Homo sapiens: one gene and its partners. The protein of the gene in region 3 interacts with the protein of the main gene of each other region in a pairwise test. Each region holds a gene or a part of one and is shown on either strand. Other genes may lie near its edges.

Evidence for each region.
Region 1: the proteins of KCNJ6 (region 3) and LPAR3 interact in binary tests that used the Homo sapiens proteins (3 or more experiments, as listed by UniProt).
Region 2: the proteins of KCNJ6 (region 3) and UPK1B interact in binary tests that used the Homo sapiens proteins (3 or more experiments, as listed by UniProt).

What each region holds. Positions count from the first base shown.
Region 1 is NC_000001.11:84,883,191-84,890,219, forward strand, and holds part of LPAR3 (lysophosphatidic acid receptor 3), read right to left. Parts: intron 1-7,029. UniProt on the Homo sapiens protein: Receptor for lysophosphatidic acid (LPA), a mediator of diverse cellular activities. May play a role in the development of ovarian cancer. Seems to be coupled to the G(i)/G(o) and G(q) families of heteromeric G proteins.
Region 2 is NC_000003.12:119,190,585-119,197,613, reverse strand, and holds part of UPK1B (uroplakin-1b), read right to left. Parts: intron 6,633-7,029; coding exon 6,510-6,632; intron 3,396-6,509; coding exon 3,216-3,395; intron 1-3,215. UniProt on the Homo sapiens protein: Component of the asymmetric unit membrane (AUM); a highly specialized biomembrane elaborated by terminally differentiated urothelial cells.
Region 3 is NC_000021.9:37,619,450-37,626,478, forward strand, and holds part of KCNJ6 (G protein-activated inward rectifier potassium channel 2), read right to left. Parts: intron 6,036-7,029; coding exon 5,710-6,035; 3' UTR 1-5,709. UniProt on the Homo sapiens protein: Inward rectifier potassium channels are characterized by a greater tendency to allow potassium to flow into the cell rather than out of it.

The sequences.
Region 1 (7,029 bases), on a different chromosome or scaffold from region 3:
AGTCAGAGAAAGTCCACTGAGCTCCACGGTGAGCTTGTTCCCAAAAGGCTGGGGAAAAGGGACCCCAACAGAGAATATTGGGAAGAGGAGACCAAAGGAAGAATCCTTTCCCTCACACTGGGTGGGTCACCACAATAACACCCTAAAGCCAAAGCCTTCTCTCTTCTACCAATCTAGTCAGAGAGTCACTAGCTGGTGTTTTTCATTACCTTTTAGTCCCAGAGTCCCAGATGAATGTGTACAATCAGGAAAGAGGGGTTTAGCCAGCTGGGTTGAAAACCTAATGTTTAACATTCTTACTATGTTACCATACTTCCTCTAAACCACTCCTTCAGGATCTTGGAGTAATCCACCAAAACACATTCACTGATATACTAGTGAACAAATTTCAAAGTTTACATCTCTTTCCCCATTTGATCCCACAGTGAGATGGGCAGTTCAGCATTCTCCATTTTACAGAGAAGAAATGTAGAAATTGGGGACTGATTCACCCTGACCAGCCCTCATCCTTCTGGCCCAGGGATTTTTTTGTTTTTTTTTTTTTTAAACAATACTGACCACTGGAGCCTCTTTTTGGAAGCAGTCTCTGCCACCTGACCCCCAGAGAAATGTAAGACGTAGATTTGTTCTCCATAATGACATTAATGCCTTTTGCAAACATTTACTGAATCTAGAAGAAATATAATTGCAGAAAGTAAAAAGTTTCCTCTTCAAAGTTTCCCTTCTTGTTAAATAATAAATCATAAATGTTAGAAATAATAGTTTCTTTTAAAATTTTTCTTCAAGCCTCCTTGCTTTGTGCTAATAACTCTTTGTTAAGCATGTAGCTGTTGGACATGCTCACAGGCATGTTCCAGCTCACAGCCTATGCCCCTTTCTTATTTGGAAATGTTATTACTTCTTTAAATTTTTCAAAAGCAACTTCCTCTTTTCCTTTGTTCTCCCTTGCCTTTACCTATCTAAAAAAGTTTTAGGCTCTTAGCAAATCGGGTATCAGTTTAGACTGTGAGGTTCGGCTCCAGCCAGTGGATGCAGGACACAGCAGTGAGGACAACCCAAATGTGTAAGGGATAAATATGTCTGCTTTTCCTTTGTTTGGTGTACTCTCGTGGCAAGACTGCTGGTGAGTATACCCTTTCCGCAGAAAGTAAAAATTGCCTTGCTGAGAGAATTAAATTTATGTTCAAGCGCTATTTCTTTGTGGCACCGGGGAACAAGCATTTTGCATTTCTAACATAATGATTGTGGTAAATGTCAATAAAAATCTTGAAGCACATCTCTCCTTAGAGTTTTTGGTAAGAGTTTATGGAGGAAAATCTATATAATCAAATGAAAATATCACAGTAAAACTCTAAATGCATCATAGAAATTAGCAACCATTAGTCAGTTTGCCTGTTTCAGAGAAAGCTCAGAAGAAACTCAGTTTACCTCTACAATGTTAAATGATGTTAACACCTTCTCCTAAAGCATTTTACTTTCCCCATCAACAAAACAGAGTATATCAGCTGAAATAGGCCACAGACCTCATTGTCTGTCTGTACGAAACTGGGGCAAAAATGAACTCAGAAAGACAAGTAATAACCTGGTAGCAATCCATGGAAAGTTAACCTTGCTGACATTCCTCTTCACTTCCCTCTGTTGGATGTTCCTGGAATTTGCATTTGTGGAAAGTTGCATACTTGCAGTGAACAAGTTCCACTGGTCCTGTTGTAGTGGATTCCACCTAACCTTTTATTCCTCTCATCCCTGTCCAGCTAACGTTCTCTCACTGTTCAGCATATGTACGTCAAAGACAGAAGTGCATGAAGACATGTGTAAAGATGCAAAATTCCCCCAGGAAACTCATTATCTAGAGCAGCCAGGGCCAATCCTCTCCTCCTCCCAGGGATTCCTAGCAATATCTGGAGACATCTGCATCAGTCATGACTTGGGGGAGGGGGGTACTATTGGCATCTACCGGGCAGAGGCCAGGAATGCTGCTGCACACGCTACAATGCACAGGCCAGCTCTCCACAACAGAGAAGTATCCGGTCCAAAATGTCAGTGGTGCTAAGGTTGAGAAATCCTGACCTAGAGGGTGAGATGAGACATATAATACAGGGTTAAGTGTGGCAGAGCTGTAATAGAGCTAAAACTGGAGTGCTATCAGATTGATAACATTTAAACAAGCGGCTATTACTTGCCAACAAGTGTTGGCAAGAATGTGGGGAAAATAGTACCCTCATAACATGTTGGTGAGAATGTAAACTGATAGAACTTTGGGGGAAGGCAATTTGGCAATATCTAATGAGACTTTAAAATATATACACTATTCCTCTTTGCTTTCCTTCCATTCCTATTTTCTTTCTTCCTTTCCCTTCTCTTTTCTTCCTTCCCCAGAACACAGCAATCAGCATGTAGCTGGGAATGCAACGTGAGGCTGGGGAGTTTGGGGAGGTACATAGAGACATGAGCTATGGCTGGGAAGAGCTGTGAGCTAGAGGGACTGGAGACTGATGATTAAGCTACATAGAGACACAGGCTAGCAGGCCTGGCAGCCGAGGACAAGAGGCAGTGGCAAAGGTGGTGGACACAGAGGAGGCAGGATGACCTTCACATTTGTAAGACTGGTTACTGTATGCAAATAAGCAAAAATATTGAAGATAATGAGAGTCAGGTTTTCTAACTGCCAGAGAAGATATGTACAAACATATAAAGGGGGAAGAACAGAAAGCTCTTTGGGTGTTAGATTGAAATTGTAGGTATAAGTATGAATCATGATTTTATAATACACAGCCTAATATAGAAAAATTTATAAATGTGTGTACACATATACACATATATTTCCTAGCTCTGTCCTCTGAGAGATCTAGAAGCAATAATACCCCAGTAACAATGGGCACATCAACCTCCTATGTATTGGTGTCTAAATACAATTCTCATATTGCATATTAGATCTCAAGACTTATTCATCCTACATAACTGCAACTTCGTACCTTTTAATCTACATCTTCTGTTTTTCCCTGTTTCCACTAATGTACAACACAAGGACTACAGTTACTAATACTGTATTGAGGCTGAGCATGGTAGCTCATACCTGTAATCCCAGCACCTGGGATGCCAAGGCAGGAGGATGATTCAAGGCTGGAGTTGGAGGCCAGCCTGGGCAACACAGCAAGACCCCTCCTCTAAAAAATATTTTTTAAATTAGCCGGGAATGGTGGTGAGCACCTGGAGTCCTAGCTACTTGGGAGGCTGAGATAGGAGGACTGCTCAAACCTAGGAGTTAGAGGCTGCAGTGAACTATGATCACGCCACTGCACTCCAGCCTGTAGTACAGAGCAAGACCCTGTCTCTAAAAAAATTAAAATTAATAAATATTGTATTCTGCTAATTTGCCAAGAGAGTAGATTTTAGGTACTCTTATCACAAACACAAGAAAGGTAACTATGATGGGCATGTCAATTTGCTTGACTGTAGTAATTACTTCATTACATCTATGTTTATCAAGATAAATACATGAAAATATCATGTTGTATGCCTTAAATATATAAAATATAAATAAGACAAAAGTACCATTCTCTACTAAAAGGGAGGCCTAACTAGGTCAAGGAAAGTAGAAGATGAGTCCAGATGATCTGGTGGAGCCAGAAAATAAAGAAATGCTCAATGAATAATAGGGATGTGTTAAAAGGACACAGGAGGCAGCTCCAAGGGGTCCCCATTGGCCAAATTGAGCACAATTTGAGCATTAAAATAAAAAACAATCGTGAGACTTCAACTTATTGAATACATAAGGAATCCATGAACAGTTCTTAGTAAAAACATAACAGAAAAATAAAGTTCTTCCTTATAGTAGTATGCCAACTAACAAATGTAGAAAGAGTGACGGTGATAAAGAATCATCACTTGAGGCTGGGTGCAGGGGCTCATGCCTGTAATCCCAGCACTTTGGGAGGCCAAGGCAGGTGGATCACTTGAGCTCAGGATTTCGAGACCAGCTTGGGCACCATGGTGAAACCAACTCCATCTCTACAAAAAATACAAAAAAAAAAAAATAAGCCAGGTGTGGTAGTGTGCACTTGTAGTTCCAGCAACTTGGGGGGCTGAGGCAGGAGGATCACTTGAGCCCAGGAGGTTGGGGCTGCAGTGAGCCAAGATCATGCCACTGCACTCCAGCATGGCAACAGAGTGAGACCTTGTCTTAAAAAAAAAAAAAAAGAATCACCATTTGGCAACATTCATAGAGGTGGCTGATTCAGGCAGACGTCATCAATAAATGGTAGTTTCTGTAGGTACAGGTTTAATGAGGAACAGGCTATTTGCATAACCCTAGAATAGTTCCCCACAAACACTAGTACAAAGGTGTTTTCAAACACCTTTGGGGAAACAAAGGGAAACGAAGGAAAAATGGCGAATTTAAGGTGAAGAAATCTGGCAAACACCAACATAACCAGGTGATTGAGGTCAATATCCCAGCAGTGGGATGGGTTGGCACCATGTGCCTTCTGTTGTAAGAAGCTAAGAAGAGCTGAGTTTCATTTCTGAAGGATTCCTGCCAAGAATGCATGACCTCAGTCAGGCTGTGAAGAAATACCCAATACAGCCAGGTTGGGAGTCATCCTACAGCATGTAGGACCTATACAACTGCAAACACTTTAGGAACAGGGAAAGTCTGAGGAACCGTTCCAGAAGAGACATGGTAACTAAATGTAACATGAATCCTAGATCAGACAGGTAGAAGAGACATTTGGGGGATAACTGACGAAATAGGAATGGGCTCTGTGGATTGGATGATAGTGTTTTGTATCAATGTCCATTTCCTGATTTGATGGGTGTACGCTGGTTATATAGGAGGACAGAGTGCTTGCTTTTTTTTTTATGCTGGAGTGTTTTCAAGAGTGATGGAGAATAATGTCTATGACTTCCTCTCAGAATAAAGACTGATGATGTATATTTTATATATATATATATACATACATACACACACACACACACACACACACACACAGAGAGAGGCAGAGACAGAGAGAAGGAGGGAGGGAGAGAGAGGGAGAGATTGAGATTTCAAACCTAATGCCATGGAGACATAGAAAAAGATTATACTACTTATTTTCTCTTCACCAGACCCATGTGATAGTTTTTGTCCAGAGAAAGGCCTTCCTTACCCCCATTCGACGAACTGACTTACTAAAAATCAAACAGGGCAGGAGGTAAATGATTCACTGATGTGCTCCCAATAAATTCTATACTTGATCCCTTGCTTTGGTTTTCTATAACTAGTCACTGCCAATGGCTTTGAGTCTTAACTCTGGCTTTCTACCTCCTTAGGGAGTGAATGCTGCTGATAGACTCCGCTGCCTATCTTTGAATTACATGGTCTGAGTCTGTCTGGGGGCAGCTCCAGAATTTCTACAGAGGATGTGCTTCGGGATAGCTTGGCTTAAAAGGGGAGACCAGGGGCTTGCCTTAAAGCTGCATTTATAAAGCAAATACACTGCTTTTATTTAGACCGCATGTTTGCTTGGAAGGCCTTTGGACCAAATAGTGCACTTATGGAGGGGCTAATGTGCCCTCCAACCCAGCCCTGCCACCTGCCAAGCCATCCCTTGATAACTGGTCAATCTGCACATGGGTGAGTCAAGGCCAGGGCTAGTAGAAGCTCCAGCTTAATGTCCCAGGGAACAATGTAGACACAGGACTAGCTGATGAGTAATTAGAGGGGTTGATGAACATCCTCAGGAAGGGGTGGGGCAGGCTGTGCTGGGCAGGTTGCTTTCCACAGTGACACCCAGTCTGGCCCAGCCTGAGGTGTACAAATGATTCACATCTGAAGAGGGGTGACAGAATCATGGGAGTAGGGCAGTATCAGGGGTCATGGGCAAGGGAGGAGTTCAAGGTTGTAGATACACAGGACAAGAGGCCAGCCAAGGAAGAGGAATAAAGAGGAGGACATAAGACTGGGGGTGATGAAGAGAGGGGTGGGTATAACCCAGGATGTCAGAACCTTCCCCTCAATGGTACTAAATCCCCTCCCCCACCCTCCAGCTGGCTTGCCAGGACAGGTAGAGAGCAACAAATATCTTTCAGACTGAATTAAGTAATTAGCTTAATTTGGGGGTGGGGGAGCAATGCCTTTGGTCAGTTTAGAACTTTGCAGAGTAAACTAGAGACCCAAGTCAGCAAGAAGGCACAGGGGAGTGAGGATGGTATAGGTGGACCCAATACATTGTCCAACATTGCCATCAGCACCCTCCTCCTGACCTGTGGGATGGGTGGTGGCCAGCTGTTTGTGTTTGTCCACTAAGAACTGAGATGCGCAGACAGTACAGGTAATTCCAACACGAAATTAAAGCTTCTTTGGAACTTTGCCCTATGCCTTCGATCATGTAGTGTTGGGTAACCTCAGTCCTGAAATTTAACTTCCTCTCATATTCCCCACAGAGCAGTTTCTCAACCTTTGATGCTATTTCCTCCTCGAAGTCCAGTATGATGTCAGAGGACGGGAGAGAGGAATATGGAAGAACTGCAGCAGTGCCCCCTTAGCACTCAAAACATGCTTGTGGAGATACTGCCAACCCCCAATAGCCAGAGCTGAGTGGGCCTGCCTGGGGTGGCCCACATCTGGATGTCCTGCCTCTTTAATTCCAATGTTTATGCACTCTTCACAGGGTACAAAGCTCTTTCACGTACATAAGTTAATGGAACTCATTAACAATCCATGTAGACAGGTAGAAAAGTAATTATTATCCCCACTATATAAATGAAAAAAACTTAAACATGACAATCTATTCAGGGTCACAAGAACTCACAAAAGTGGGACTAGGATTCAAAGACAGAACCCTGTGCTCCAAGTACCTCTAGTCCACCGTTTGTAAAAGCACAAAGTCTCTGCACTTATGCAGATAGCTCCCCAGCCCCATCACCACCTCTGCCATCCACAGCAGGACTGAGTTCCAGGTGACTCCTCCACAAATACAGAATCCAGGATGAGGAACAAAGGATCATCAAGGCCGGAAAGGGGGAGGCTCAGTACCTGCAGGAGGAATG
Region 2 (7,029 bases), on a different chromosome or scaffold from region 3:
AACATTTACAGAATGAATGGAACATTAATGTTTACAATAGTATAATTTGCAACACACTTGATGGTTCACAAAACACTCCCATATCTGCTACTCCTTGGTCCTCCCAACAATCCTGGGAGGTGGTCGTTCATCTAATAATATATATATAAGGGCCCACTTATGCCAGGTGCCAAGTACTGGCTGGGCATTTAGCTGTGGCAAACAGAAATGGGCCTTGCCTTCATGAAGCTCACAGACAGAAGCCCCATTTTTTTCACCATCATTTAGTGCCTTTTCGTGATGCTAGTCAATTTAGTGGTACTTTACTTGATCTTCCTTCATTTTATTATAACATTTTTGAGGTATAGTGATCACAATTTGCACATAGCATTTCTGAGTCACATAAACCATAACATAGAATATATATATATTTGCATCTGACATGCTGTGTGAAATTCTAGTTAATTTCTACTATTAACAAGCTTATAGTGACTTCCCTAATTTTGTTAGTCTTCACAGCTATAGCAGCACATTTGTGCATTGTAGATCCTGAAAACCTACAATATGGTTGTCAAAAAGTGAAGCCTGGGCAACACAGTGAGACCTCATCTCTACAAAAAATAAAATTAGCCAGGCCTGGTGGTACATGCCTGTAGTTAGTTGGGAGGCTGAGGTGGAAAGGAGGATCACTCGAGCCCAGGAGCTTGAGGCTGCAATAAGCTGTGATTGCAGCATGGCACTCCAGCTTGGGTGACAGAGTGAGACCCTGTCTCTCAAACAAAACAAAACAAAAACCAGGCTGGGCACGGTGGCTCACTCCTTTAATCCCAGCACTTTGGGAGGCTGAGGTGGGTGGATCACAAGGTCAAGAGATCGAGACCATCCTGGCCAACATGGTGAAACCCCATCTCTACTAAAAATACAAAAATTAGCTGGGTGTGGTTGCGTGCACCTGTAGTCCCAGCTACTTGGGAGGCTGAGGCAGGAGAATCACTTGAACCTGGGAGGTGGAGGTTGCAGTGAGCCGAGATAGCGCCACTGCACTCCAGCCTGGCGACAGAGTGAGACAGGCTCCATCTCAAAAAAAAAAAAAAAAAAAGAAAAAGAAAAACCATTCACTATTCACTTCTTTATTCACCCATCTATCAAACGTCGGTGCTTGCTTTGTGCCAGGCATTATGCTAAGTACTAAAAATATCAAATCTGTAGAATCAAATAATACATAGTCCTCAAGGAGACTCAGAAAAAATAGACTTGGGAACAAATATAGTTCCAGGTAGTGAATGCAATAATAGAAATAAAGTATACCAGGTCTTGGGGTAGCACCTTTTTCTTGGTGGAAAAGGATGGCAAGAGGGGACTTAGCAAGACCTATGAGTCAGGGAGAATGGTGGTGTGTGGGAATCTGGGAGGCTGGGCTAGGGAGAATCAGAAAGGACTAATAGATAAGAGATTATGTCAAAGGAGCAGAATGAGTGAGGTTGAGAAACAAGGAGCACAGGAAGTCAGGAACAGAGAGAGGAATTTCAGAATTCAGGAATTTGGTGGAGGAGTAGGGCTGAGTGATGATGAATTTGTAGTTGGTAGGTAGTGGAGGTGGAGTTGTTAGAACAGATAAAGCCAGGGAACTGTAGGGTAGTGGAGGTGGAATTGTTAGAACAGATGAGGCCAGGGAACTGTAAGGGAACGTGTTAGAAGCATTGTCAAAATGGGTGTGGAGGTCCCAAGGTAGAGGAAAATAGTTCATTTGTATCTTTTCCTCAATTTCTCATCTATCTAAACTTGAGAAAAGCTTCAGGTTTGTCCTCATAACTAAAATATTATATGTGCTAGGAAAAAAGGTATAACTATGAAATAAACTGGTTATCTGAAGACAAATGTCCTATTTTTATCCCTTTCAAAGAGGTAATACAGTTTGTACACAATTACAATCCAATCAAGATTTGTTTGCATGAGCAGTTCCAGTGTTGAAATATCAAAAGCCTTTTATAGTCCTGAGAATAATTATATTGTACACCTTGATTATAAGCAGCAAATTTAATTTTTAATAACAGTCTGAATATAATTGATTAAAACAATGCCAGACAATGTTGCAGTAAAGCTCAATGAGGGTTGCTCTGGACACTGCTGCAAAATAATCTAGAACACTCCCATGCCCTTTTCTGGAATAATGCATCCAGTTCTAGTCCAGGCACCCTGTCAGCAACAGTGCCATGTCCCTCAATCTGAACATGCAGTTTGTACTGCTCCCAAACAAAACAGCCTGACATTTCTCAATTATTTAATGAGCTGGTACACAACTAGCTTTCCTTAAAGAGGTAACTCCCTGAGCAGAGCACAGCGTTTCAGTGTACAGGGTCAGCAGATGCTGACTACAAGTACCTGGAGGTTCTCATCAGGGCTTTTGGGGAATATTAACAAGTCTTCACTGGCTTAGAGTCTGTGCTTGAAGGCAGAAAACTCATGTTTCAAAAGCCAGAGAGTTTTTTGAAAAGACGGACATTTACTAGTTGTGTGACCTCAGCAAGGTATTTATTAGTATCTCTACGTCTAAGTTCTTCGTTTGTAAAACAGGGATCCTACTGGCACCTACTACTGAGCATTAAAGGAGATAGTGTATGTGTGGCACTGGAAACAGTGTTTGGCATTTAGTAAGTACACAATAAATGTTAGTTTTCATGATCGTAATCACATTATCCTCATCAGCCTGGAAACTTTTTCAAAAACTATCTGTATGTAAACTACCTTCCATCCAAATCACCAACCTAATGTTTATTAAGACTGTCCTACTTTACCATTGAATAAGGAATGTGGATGTGTAATTACTACATTTATCCTCAGCAATAGTCATTGCTTTGGAATTGGCAAAACATTCTTTTTGCACATCATCCCTTCCAATTTACATTTTGCAAAACTAGAGCAAAACTTTGTTTAATGTAAATATTTCTTGACATACCAATTCCATACATTGTGCAAATTGTCTTCATTTAAACAAAGTTGGGTTCTGCTATTGCAATTCTCATGTTTTGTTAATTTTATTAAAATGTAAATTTGCCCCTATCAGTCCTGGTTTAGCATTTGCAGTTTATTAACAGAGAAGGAAATAGTTAACATGAGGTTTAGGGAAAAGAATGTAGAATTCCTTACTGAAAGACTATTTCCTACAGTTGACCAATATTTTTCTCATAAAGAGCAGCAGAACCTCCTGGGAAGTCTTGGGAGGAGAGAGGACTCACCTGATTGTGATAAAAACCAGGCACGCCTAGTTTACAAGCCTCCAGGTTGAGAGGTTCTTTAAGATTGTTCATAACACAGCATTGACGAGGCCAGGGATAGTCAGCATCATTATTCTCAGTCCGGAAGGCAGATGTGTATTTTTGCCAGTCTGATGGACCATTTACGCCACAGCAATTGTCCTGTCAGCAGATGAGAGATACAAAATTCTCTTTCGTGGTCCCTACTAGAGCCATCAATGTAGCAACTGAAATTTTATAGAGAAAGAAGATACGGAAAGTGTACCATATCTTACATTTACTAAGAAATCCCCAAATGACAGCTGAAGGTATTGATAACTTACAACTTACATTTTACAGTTTGTAAAAGAATTTTTACACTTCCTACTTTACTAGTCATTAGTGAACCCTGTAGCCATTGACATGTTACTTAAACTGTCTAAGCCTCAGTTTCCTTAACTGTAAAATTGGAATATAGTACCTATCTCATAGAGTTTTTTTAAGGATTAAATGAGTTAATATACTTAATGTGCTCAATACAGTGCCTGGCTTATGGTAAACTCTTAATAAATGTTAATTATGATTGATACTGTACTAATATATTGATATAACAATGTGAGAGAGGAATAATTATTCTGATATATCAGAGCAAATTGAGAATCATAAAATTAAAGATTATATCAAAGCAAATTGAGAATCATAAAATTAAAAATTTTAGTGGTGAAGTTATGAGTAATTGTTCTTGTTTTGCTTTTCTATACATTTAAACATTTTTTAGAGTAATTAGGTATTATTTTTATAATGGGAGAAAATAAAGTGAAAAAAATAACCTGGTGACACAGAGCTATGTCTCCACATAGGGGAGGGAGACCAATTAATACATCCCTTACACTCTGGATAGAATTGAGAATAGAGGACAAAACACAATTCATATAGCTTTCCTTCTTTGTTATCAATTCTCCTAAAATCCTTCAAAAGGGAGGAAGTTAAAACCATGGGTATCTTGGAACTTTTAGAATGAATGTATTCAAGTAAACTTGATGATAAATCAACCATCTTTAAAGGATATACAATTTTGTCACTATGTTATGGGAAATATCTAACCAAGAAAAATAATTATTCTGCATTCTGGGAAAAATGGTTAAGTCTAAGCCAGGCTTATTTCAAACTAGGATTTAGTGGGCACAGAGAAGATTTAAGGGTCCAAAATTGAGCTTTGTAGCACTCCAAGCTTCAGATTTGGGTAAAGAGTGACAACCCAGCAGAGGAGACTAAGCGGGAGTAGTCAGTGAGACAAATGCTGATAAGATGTCAAAGAAGATGAGGACAGAGACTTGGCTATTGGATTTGGCAGGATGGAGGTAATTGGTAATTATGGCAGGGTTGTTTTTGTTGAGTGGTGAGGCAGAGGCCAATTGTAGTTGGATGAAAGCAGATGAGAGGGATGAAAATGGGACCACAAGTGTAGGCATCTCTTCTGAGATTTGCTGTGGAATAAAACAAAACAGTAGTAGGACAGAATAGTGGGTGAATGTTGGACAAGGGAGTCTTTTTATAAGATAGACAATTTAAGGTGTCCATGTAGGCTGTTGAAAGGGAGAAACTGATGAGGCAGATCAGAGCAGGGAAGACTGTTGGGGCAAAGGAGATGGAATGCAGAACAGAATCAAAAGAGCTGGACAAAGGACAGCCTGTGTGACATAACAAGAGAGAAGGCAAAGTGCACAGGTGTATATCAATGTAGATTTGGTGGTAGAAAGATGAGGTGGTTCTTGTCTAATTTCTTCTATATTCTTAAAAACATATGAGGTCGGGTCATCAACTGAGAGGGAGGGTGAGAAGAGGTGTGGCAGGCATGAAGGAAGAACATGTGAAATAGTGACAAGTGAATTTTCTGGGAAAATATACTAGGAAATATTGTGTGCCCATTTGAGCTCTGTGGTCACAAGTTTAAATTGAAATGATCATGGTTGTGTGACTTTTCTCAGCAATGTTTAGCTCTTAGAGTATAAACGAAGAGTGAGCAAAAAGCTATATTCTACTCGGTGGGCTTGGTTAGGAAAGAGTGACCCACAGAGAAGGGTAGGGAAGGACTGGCTATGGGGCTGGACCTGAATATGGGTTAGGCAAAGAGGAAAGAGAAAACATGAAAGGGGTGATAAAAGTTAAAAAGTGGTCAATTAATTGGAGGTCCTAATGGAATAAAATTATTAGAATTGAGATATTAGAATAAATGAAAGAAATGATAGAAATTAATGGTCAGAGAATGGAATGTTCTTAGTGGCACAGTTACTGGTGATGGCATGCTGACTATGGTCATGGAAGAGGGTGGAGGTGGGGAGAAAGACAAAATCTTTGGAATGGGGTAGGACAAGGAATTGTGAGACTAAATGTTGCTGAGTCATCCATGTGGCTGCTGAAGTTTCTAGGTGGGATATCAGGAGTATGACTGAAGAGGTAGATAGTTAAGTGAGATATTGAAATCCCTAATGAAGGCAGGAGAACGACTGAGGGTAGGGAGGCTGGTAAGTAATGGCAAGGAAGGATAAGGGGTGATGTAGATCAAGGAAGCAAATAGTATGGCAGCCAAGGGGAGCAAGAAGGACACCTAGCCAATTTCCAGGTCCTATGGTACATGGATATGGGAGGAAAATGAAGGGCAGGTAGCACTCCCAGGAGATAGCCAAATTTCCAATGAAGCAAGAAAAAGATAGTAAAGAGTTCATAGAAGGAGTGGTGGCTATAAGGGAGTTTGCTGATGACAGACTGTAAAAAGTTGGTGGTGGGGTGTGGAGTAGGAGCAGGGGCCAGTAAGAAAGCTAGGTCAGATTGGTAGTTATGTAGAGGATAACAATTTGCATACAGAGGGCAATGTGGGGGTGATGATGGATATTCTGGAAGACTTGGACTTTTGATGGCACTGGAGATAAACATGGACATAAACTATGATTGCCAGTTGGAGAAAATTGGGTGATCAAATCAAGATATAGGGCCTGGTCCTTGGCAAGACTAGCTCACAGGAGTTGTGAAGAGGTACCCAAAAGGCGAAACAGGCAGTAATTACCACTCGAGTTCACTGTGGGGTAGAGAAAATATTTTTCTTTTAATGTAAATGATACCTGAGTTCTAAGAGGGAGAGTGTATGATTAACCTAAGTTTCTTGACAAAATCATTCCAACAAATGTAAGCTAATCATCATGGCTTGAAATAAAATATAGGGTCCCACTGAGTCATGTGTATGACACCCACTCCCACCAGTAAGTAAAAATGGCATCTCCCCAAGACCACAGGTCTTACCTGGAGCATGAGCCTGTCCCAGGTTTTGGTGACTCCATTGTTTTTCCACTGGTCATCATTGTTTGGAGGGCTGTTGTTTTGGTACCTCTCTAGCATCTGCTTCAGGAAGAGGTTGGGTGTGAACTATAGTAGGAAGAGGCAACACAAGAGGGAGAGATAGCACGCTAATTTTCAAGGAGAGGAAAATATTTTTCTCTGTCTTTTCCTGGGGACACTGAACATTCTCTCCTGGAGCAAAACTGTACTCAGAGGCACCAAGTACAGCTGGCTGAGGTTGGCATAAGTCCCCATGCAGAGAAGAGACTCTCATCTTAAAAGAAATCACTATGAGGCCAGGGGAACACATACTGTAGGGTGGCTTAGGCTAGGAAAACAGAGAATGGGAGAGAAAGAAAGATGTAGAATTGAGAGCACGTCTTAGCTGAGGTAGAACAGAGATCCTCCCATTGGAAGGCCCATGGCCATGGCAGAGTGGTGAAACCCACAGGGGATTACAAACTTGGGCCCTGGGAGTCAGGCC
Region 3 (7,029 bases):
CAAAGGACCTTTTGGTTTTCCATAAGAAGCATTTAGTTCTTTAATTACACATTAAACTTCTAGCTTAGTGGCTAGAGAGAGCAAAAACTAGCGCAATTAAACATGAGCTAGTTCCAGGTTCACGTTCATCACCTTGATCAGTTGTAAACTGTAGGCTAGAGAAAACTAGCAAGAAAACAGAGGGAGACATCTGGGCCACCTATTTAACTCTCCTCCAAGAGAGCCTAAGAGAGAAGCCATGTGGAGGAGCGAGGCGGGTTTGATGTGTGGCAACCACTGCAGGTCTGGGCTGCTTTGCTGAGCAGAGACTGGCAGCCTGAGCTATGTACATCATCCAACGCCTGAGGGTGCCACTGAAGCAATATTTCAGCGGCTGGGCTGGGAATGCCCATTTCTCTGTAGTTCATTAAGGAGTAATTTTACTGTATCCACTTTCTGAGTTGACCGCTAGATCCTGGCTGGCTGTTGACTCTATTTGCCACTCTGGAGGAATGGCATGAAAAGGAAGGATTCTTCCTTTGAGACCCTAACTGAATGACTGGGCTCTCTAAGTCTTGTGAAGCAGTTGTCTCTTTGACAACCGAAAAAAAAGAGTTATGTTATTTTGAACAGACTTATGAGTGACTTCAATAATTTATGCTAGAAAAAAAGTCATTCTTCTATATTGCCTAGGACTCTCTTAAGAGTACAGTACAATATTTCATAGTACTTAGTACTCTTACATACTATTATTAATAGTACTATTACTAGTACTTAATAGTACCAATAGTACTTAACAGTACAGTACAGGGGTCAGCAAACTTTTTTTATACAGGGCCAGATAGTAAATATTTCAATCTTTGCTGGCCACACGGTCTCTGTTGTAATTACTCAGCTCTGTGAGTGCATGTGGAAGCAGCCATAGGCAATACACAGACAAATGGCTGTGGCTGTGTTCCAATAAAACTTTGTTTGTGGACATTGAAATTTGAATTTAGGATGATTTTCACATGTCTCAAAATATTCTTCTTTTCTTTTTTTTCCCCCAATTATTAAAAAATGTAAAAATTGCTCTTAGCTCACAAGTGGTACAATAACAGGCAGCAGGCCAGATTTTTTTTTTTTTAGCAGATTTGGTTTGCTGAAATTTTTTGTAGTAAAAATAGCCCACAGCTTAGGGCCCTGTGACCTGGATTTGAGACAAGGAGCTATGATTCACTGGCCTTTAAACTTGGCCAATTTGCCCAAACCCTAGTTTTCCCTCTATAAAATGTAAATTATAATACTCAACCTCTCATGGTGAATTAGAATGAAATAAGATAATTTGTACAAGTGCTCTTAATGCTCTCAAACACCACACCATGTTGGGTAAAATATTGTTGGGTTATTATTATATATTCTGTGATTTATCAAAATCTCTTAGCAGCCTTCTGACAGAATTTTGACTTCTAGATGACACTCTGCATCTAAAGCACTCAAGACATTAAAGGCAGAAATATTAGGAAGAGGCGTGCTTTACTCAATTTTAAATTAAAGGCTAACATTTTCTTAGATACCGGTTGGCCATAAAGTTCAGAAACAAGATAATGTTATTTTAGTGTATTGTAAAGTAATATCAATGAATCATCTATTATGTATATGTTACCTATGTTTTTCAATGTTAAAGCCATCCATTGAAAGGAAATCATCCTTGAAGATAATGTTTACAATATATAGAGGACACTGAACTTTCAACTACCTTCCTGACATTTTTAAATCATACAGAGTATCACCCAAGTCAAGGAAAGAAAGACTGAAGAGTAGCCAGACTATTAGCAAACTGTTTTGGAAATGATTTACTATGAGTATTTTAATTGTATTCTCTCAGCAAATCAAATGATTTCCCATTCTTCTGGTGAGTTCAGGTAGTTTTCTAATAGCATTCTTATGCCCCCTTTCTCTGTCCACCAGTTCCCACCTTTGTAAGCAGTTTCTAAATATCCCAAAGACACTGGCTTAAATCTAAATAAAAAAGCAAAGGGGAAAAAAGTAAGAAAACTGAAATGTAAGAAAATGTAGGGATGGAAAGCATAAGAATGTTGCTCTGGAGAATTCAAAATTTAGACTATTAAATGAAGTCATGAATAATTTTTAAATTGGAGTGCAGTGAAAAATAGACATTTCAGAGCCCTAGCTTGGTTAGACCTGCAAGAGAAAATTGTGCTTAAGAAATAGGTTGACATTTGCAGCTGGATTTCTGTTAGGGAACATAAGGTACTGAACTAAAACAATAGAATTGGAACTGGAGAACCAGGGAAACAGCAAAGGATGGGGATAGATGGAAGAACGGAGTGGGGGAAGAGAGAGTTCTGCCTCATGGACATAGAGGGGATATATGCTGGAACAACCAGGCTGGAAGGCCATGTTTGAAGGAACAGAAAAGTTGACATTTGCTATGTTAATGTAAAAGAGTATAGCTTACCCAGGGGACAGCTAAAACAGAAATGATTTTATTGGTTCCATAAAGTTGATTTATAAATGAATGGGTGCTCTTCCAGTTGGAGAGCACGTTGGGGTGGGTGGAGGTGAGAATCCGAGGAACTCAGCAGCCTTGTGGTGGGGGGTCATGCTTGCAGCTGAACCTGCCCTTCCATCCAGGAGCACTTTGTTCTGTCAAATTGGGGTCAACTGTGGCAAACCATAACCCTTAAATTCCAAATTCTTATCTGGCTCACGGATCCCACCATGCTTTATGGAAAAATGACTCAAATACATTAACCAAACAGACCAAAGGATCTAGTTGAGAGTGATCTTCATTAGTTATGGATACTGTTGTATTAAAAGAGACTTTTAAAAAATTCTCATTGCACTTGGTTTGCTAATGGAGTGACTGAGGGAATGAGGACTGGATATTGCGGAATAGAATGAGTGGAAATTGTGGGGTCAATTTTGTTGAGCTGTCTTAATGGAAAACACCATTCACTCACTACTCGCTGCTTAGAAAATCAGTCTCAATGAACTTTCAGTTCCAAATTTTAACAGTTGACACAAAATACACTGTTAAACTGTGTTAACAACTGTAGAAAAATAGACATGTTTGATAGGGACATTCTAGTAAAAGGTTCTTCAGGAGCATCCCCATGTAAAGATTCAGAGGCTCACATTACAAAAACGAGATTTGGTTCAAGTTCTGTCTCCAACTACATTGACAACAAAGACAGTGAGAAACAGGGAGAGACCTCACATCTGGGTGCCCGTCACAGACACAGAACTGACAGGTGCACGTGGCCAACGTGTTGTCAAGGCTCTTCGTTCAGTTGTGCTAAAGGGCAGGCAAGCAGGGATGAGGCCCTGAGCTGCTTGCTCTTCCAACCAGACACGGGGGTGTGCGCTGTCCTTTAAACCTTAGCAATGGAATTAAAAAGGCCCAGTGAGTCTTCAAGAGCTAAATTAGAAGACATTTTGCCGCCCCTATTCCATCTTGTTTTGTGCCTGCCATGGCCTGCCCTGCGACCCTGGCAAGGTTGCAGGGGAGCTCCCCAAGCCAAGAGTGCCCTTCATTAGGCTGCAGAGAGGTCAAGCCATGGCTCCTCCCCGCAGCCTCAAGGGGAGTGTATCGAGCTTCCTCCTCCCGGACCACCACCTCCTTCTTAGAGTGTGCGAAATAAAGAAATGATTCAACAGAGATTCAATGCAAAAAAGGAAATGCTGGCAAACAGGAAAGGGCTATAGCCAACAGTTTTGTTTTCCTTAAAGTCAGTGCCAAGAGGCAGTTGTCCTGATCCAAGGTCTCTGAGATGGGAGAAGAGAGGCCCCGAGGTTATATTTAGGAGCCACTTTCCTTATCCTGGGACTTCTTTTTTAGTAGACAAGGTCCCCAGACTACACCAAAGGCCTGTGCGATCAGGTCAGGGAAGGCAAGGGAAACAAAGAGGGACAGCTAGTTTGATCTCTTTGACCTCCATGGTGCAGAGCCTCAAACTGAGCACAGCTGTAGGAGCTGAAAATAAACTTGGATCCATTCAATGAATATTTATGATGGGCAACTGTGTTAAAGAACAAACAGCTTATAAATGCAAAGTGAATGTGAAAGATCTGTAACAGTGCAAAATCTCCACCTGCCCCGGAGGTTTGATCTAAGATTTGTTTCCTTATTTTTTTCATTTTAAAATTCAGATTTCCAGTACAAATACCCTTCCTTCCTTCCTTCCTTCCTCCCTCCCTTCCTCCCTTCTTTCCTTTTTGCAGATTAAAGTGAATTAAGGCTGGAATTTTTTTATTTGTTTTCTTTTGATTGACAGACACTGGATTTGATTTCTAGCCTGTGGCATACTCTAGAGACATTTCTTAGACAATCATCAAGATTGTTGATCTAATCTTTGAATACTGAACTCTGGTCATTTCAAAATAATAAAAGATCACAATGCAAGAAATGCTGATGGATAAGCCCCAGGGACAGGCGAGATGTCATTCTCAGAAAGCCAGATAGAGTCAAAGTGAGAGGTCGATGATTATAATGCATGCCACTCACTACATGCCTTTGTGAATTTCACGGCTTTAGACCCAAACCATCTTCTGCTAACTTACCATGTCTCATTGTAAGAGTGTAGAGAAACTACAGCTGGAGAATCAATGGTTTTGCAGAAAAGTTTCCTAAATTATTGTACTACAAAGGGCAAGAGCTCATGTGAAAAGTAAAAACATACCTTTGGTGACAGGCTAGAGAATATTTCCTTCCTGGTATTCCCCCTCCTCCAGGCCAGTTAGTGAGGCCCTTGTTATCTTTTAAAAAAAGACATCTGTTTTGTAACATTTCACAGTATATCAGCATATTGGTGGTGGGTTTTGCCATCTACCAGACCTCTCAATTTCCCCCAGACCTATGGCTTGTTGGATTCAATGAAAGGATCCGTGTGGGAACAGTGAGGTACCCTAACGTCTGCCAGTCTGAGACACAAACAAAGGCCATGCACTGAAGGGCCAGCCGTCAACTGGATCAAAATAACCTGGAAAACACAGACATCAAAACAGAAATGCCTACTGCATGTTAGGAATCTTTCTTTCTTTCTTTTTTTTTTTGCTTCTTATTTCTAAAGTTATATATCTAAACCTACATTAATGATACATCTATGTACAGTATTTAGCAGTTCTGTTCTATGGTACTTTTGTACATGCTGGGTTTTATTACTAATTACAAAAAGAAAATAATTACATAAGGCATATATATGTACAGTGGTTTGTCTTCAGCTCACCTGGGCCCTGTAACTGCCACACCCACATGGGGGCAAGCACCTCACCCTGTAGTAGATGAAATGAATTGGGATCCATAAAACTGAGGGCTCCACTCTGTGTCTCACTGAATGAATAAATAGGCACCAGAAACCTTGCTTGTCATATCCCAGGTAAAATCTTTGACACACCTTTTTGAGTGATCTGGTATTGTACAACACATGCAGGTAAGTAACTGAAATCTCCAGGAGTTGGATGTGTAGTATTTTGGGAGGAGACCAGGCTTGGGCCACAAATGAGGGCACTTTGCACTTTCATCAAATCCATGTCTACCTTGTCAATCTGAATAACTGAGAGAGGGCAGGTAGATATTTTACACCTTGAAGATTTGTTTTCTGGTCATGTAAAAATTAAATATAAACAAATAAAGAACAAAGCAAGAGAGACAGAAAAAGAAAGAGAATGAGAGACAAGGAAAGATTGTGTTGGGGGGAGAAGAGAAGGGTTTGCCCAGCTAGGGCACTAAACTTTGGATTCATTCTCCAGGTTTGCCACATCACCATTTCTTTCTGTTTGCTCTTCGAGGTTCTTTTCTTCCTCTTCAGTCTCCAGTTCTGCATGTTGGTTGAGTTTGCTGGATACAGACCAACTCAGGGGCAGCTCTGCCCTGCTGGCTAACTCGGCCAGCTCTTTGGCACTAAGGGATGGGGTGCTGGTCTCATAGGTCTCATGGAAGCTGTTGTAGTCAACTTCGTAGAACCCGTCCTCCAGGGTCAGGACAGGTGTGAACCGGTAACCCCACAGGATCTCACTGGTGATGTAGGAGCTTCGAGCTTGGCATGTCATCCCTGCAGAGAGAAGAATGGAGGCTTTAGCATATGTAAGTGTGGGCTTTCCATGGCCAAGGAGTCACAGAGAGCCAGGAGGAGTACTGCATGCAGCTGTTGAGACTGACCTGCATACGATGCCACACTTAGTAGGTGTCATTCATGTTGTAGACACATGCTAATGTGCCATGGAGATTCCAGGCCTCTTAAGGGAGTCCTGGGGAACAATGAGAGAGTCCTGGCCCACATCAAGCCACATTTGCCTGCATGGCCATGCACATGCAAAGGAAATCAAGTGTGCAAATGCACACAAGTTTTCGCATGTGCATGGCTATGTCTGGTCCACTCTGCTCTGGGAGAACCCTGAAGCCATGACTCTGGCCTCCTACTGCTCTTGGAGGTTTAGCCTGGGTTCTAATGGGATTTGAGCTCTTTGGCCACAGACTTAGAATGAAATTTCATATATGGAACTACACTTAGGCTGCTTTTAAGCTAGAGGCCACAGATCAGTGTTACCCTCCCACCTGCCATTAACACACAGGCCATGACTGTGGCTCCAGATGCAGTTGGAAGGGTCACCCACCTGAATTTGCACTTTACTTAGGCCCAGTGGTCATAGTTGCTCAGACTGTGCAATCATAACTACTTTAAAAGCTTTTCCCCCTTCTTTTTTTTTTTTTTCTTTGAGATGGAGTCTCGCTGTGTCGCCCAGGCTGGAGTGCAGTGGTGCGATCTCGGCTCACTGCGACCTCCACCTTCAGGATTCAAGCAATTCTCCTGTCTCAGACTTCTGAGCAGCTGGGACTACAGGTGCACACCGCCATGTCCGACTAATTTTTTTTTGTATTTTAGTAGAGACGGAGTTTCATCGTGTTGCCCAGGCTGTTTATGAACTCCTGAGCTCAGGCAATCCGCCTGCCTCAGCCTCCCAAAGTGTTGGGATTACAGGCGTGAGCCACTGCTCCTGGCCACTTTTCCCTTTTCTTAAAGATAAGAAGCCTTTTTGTAATTTGCA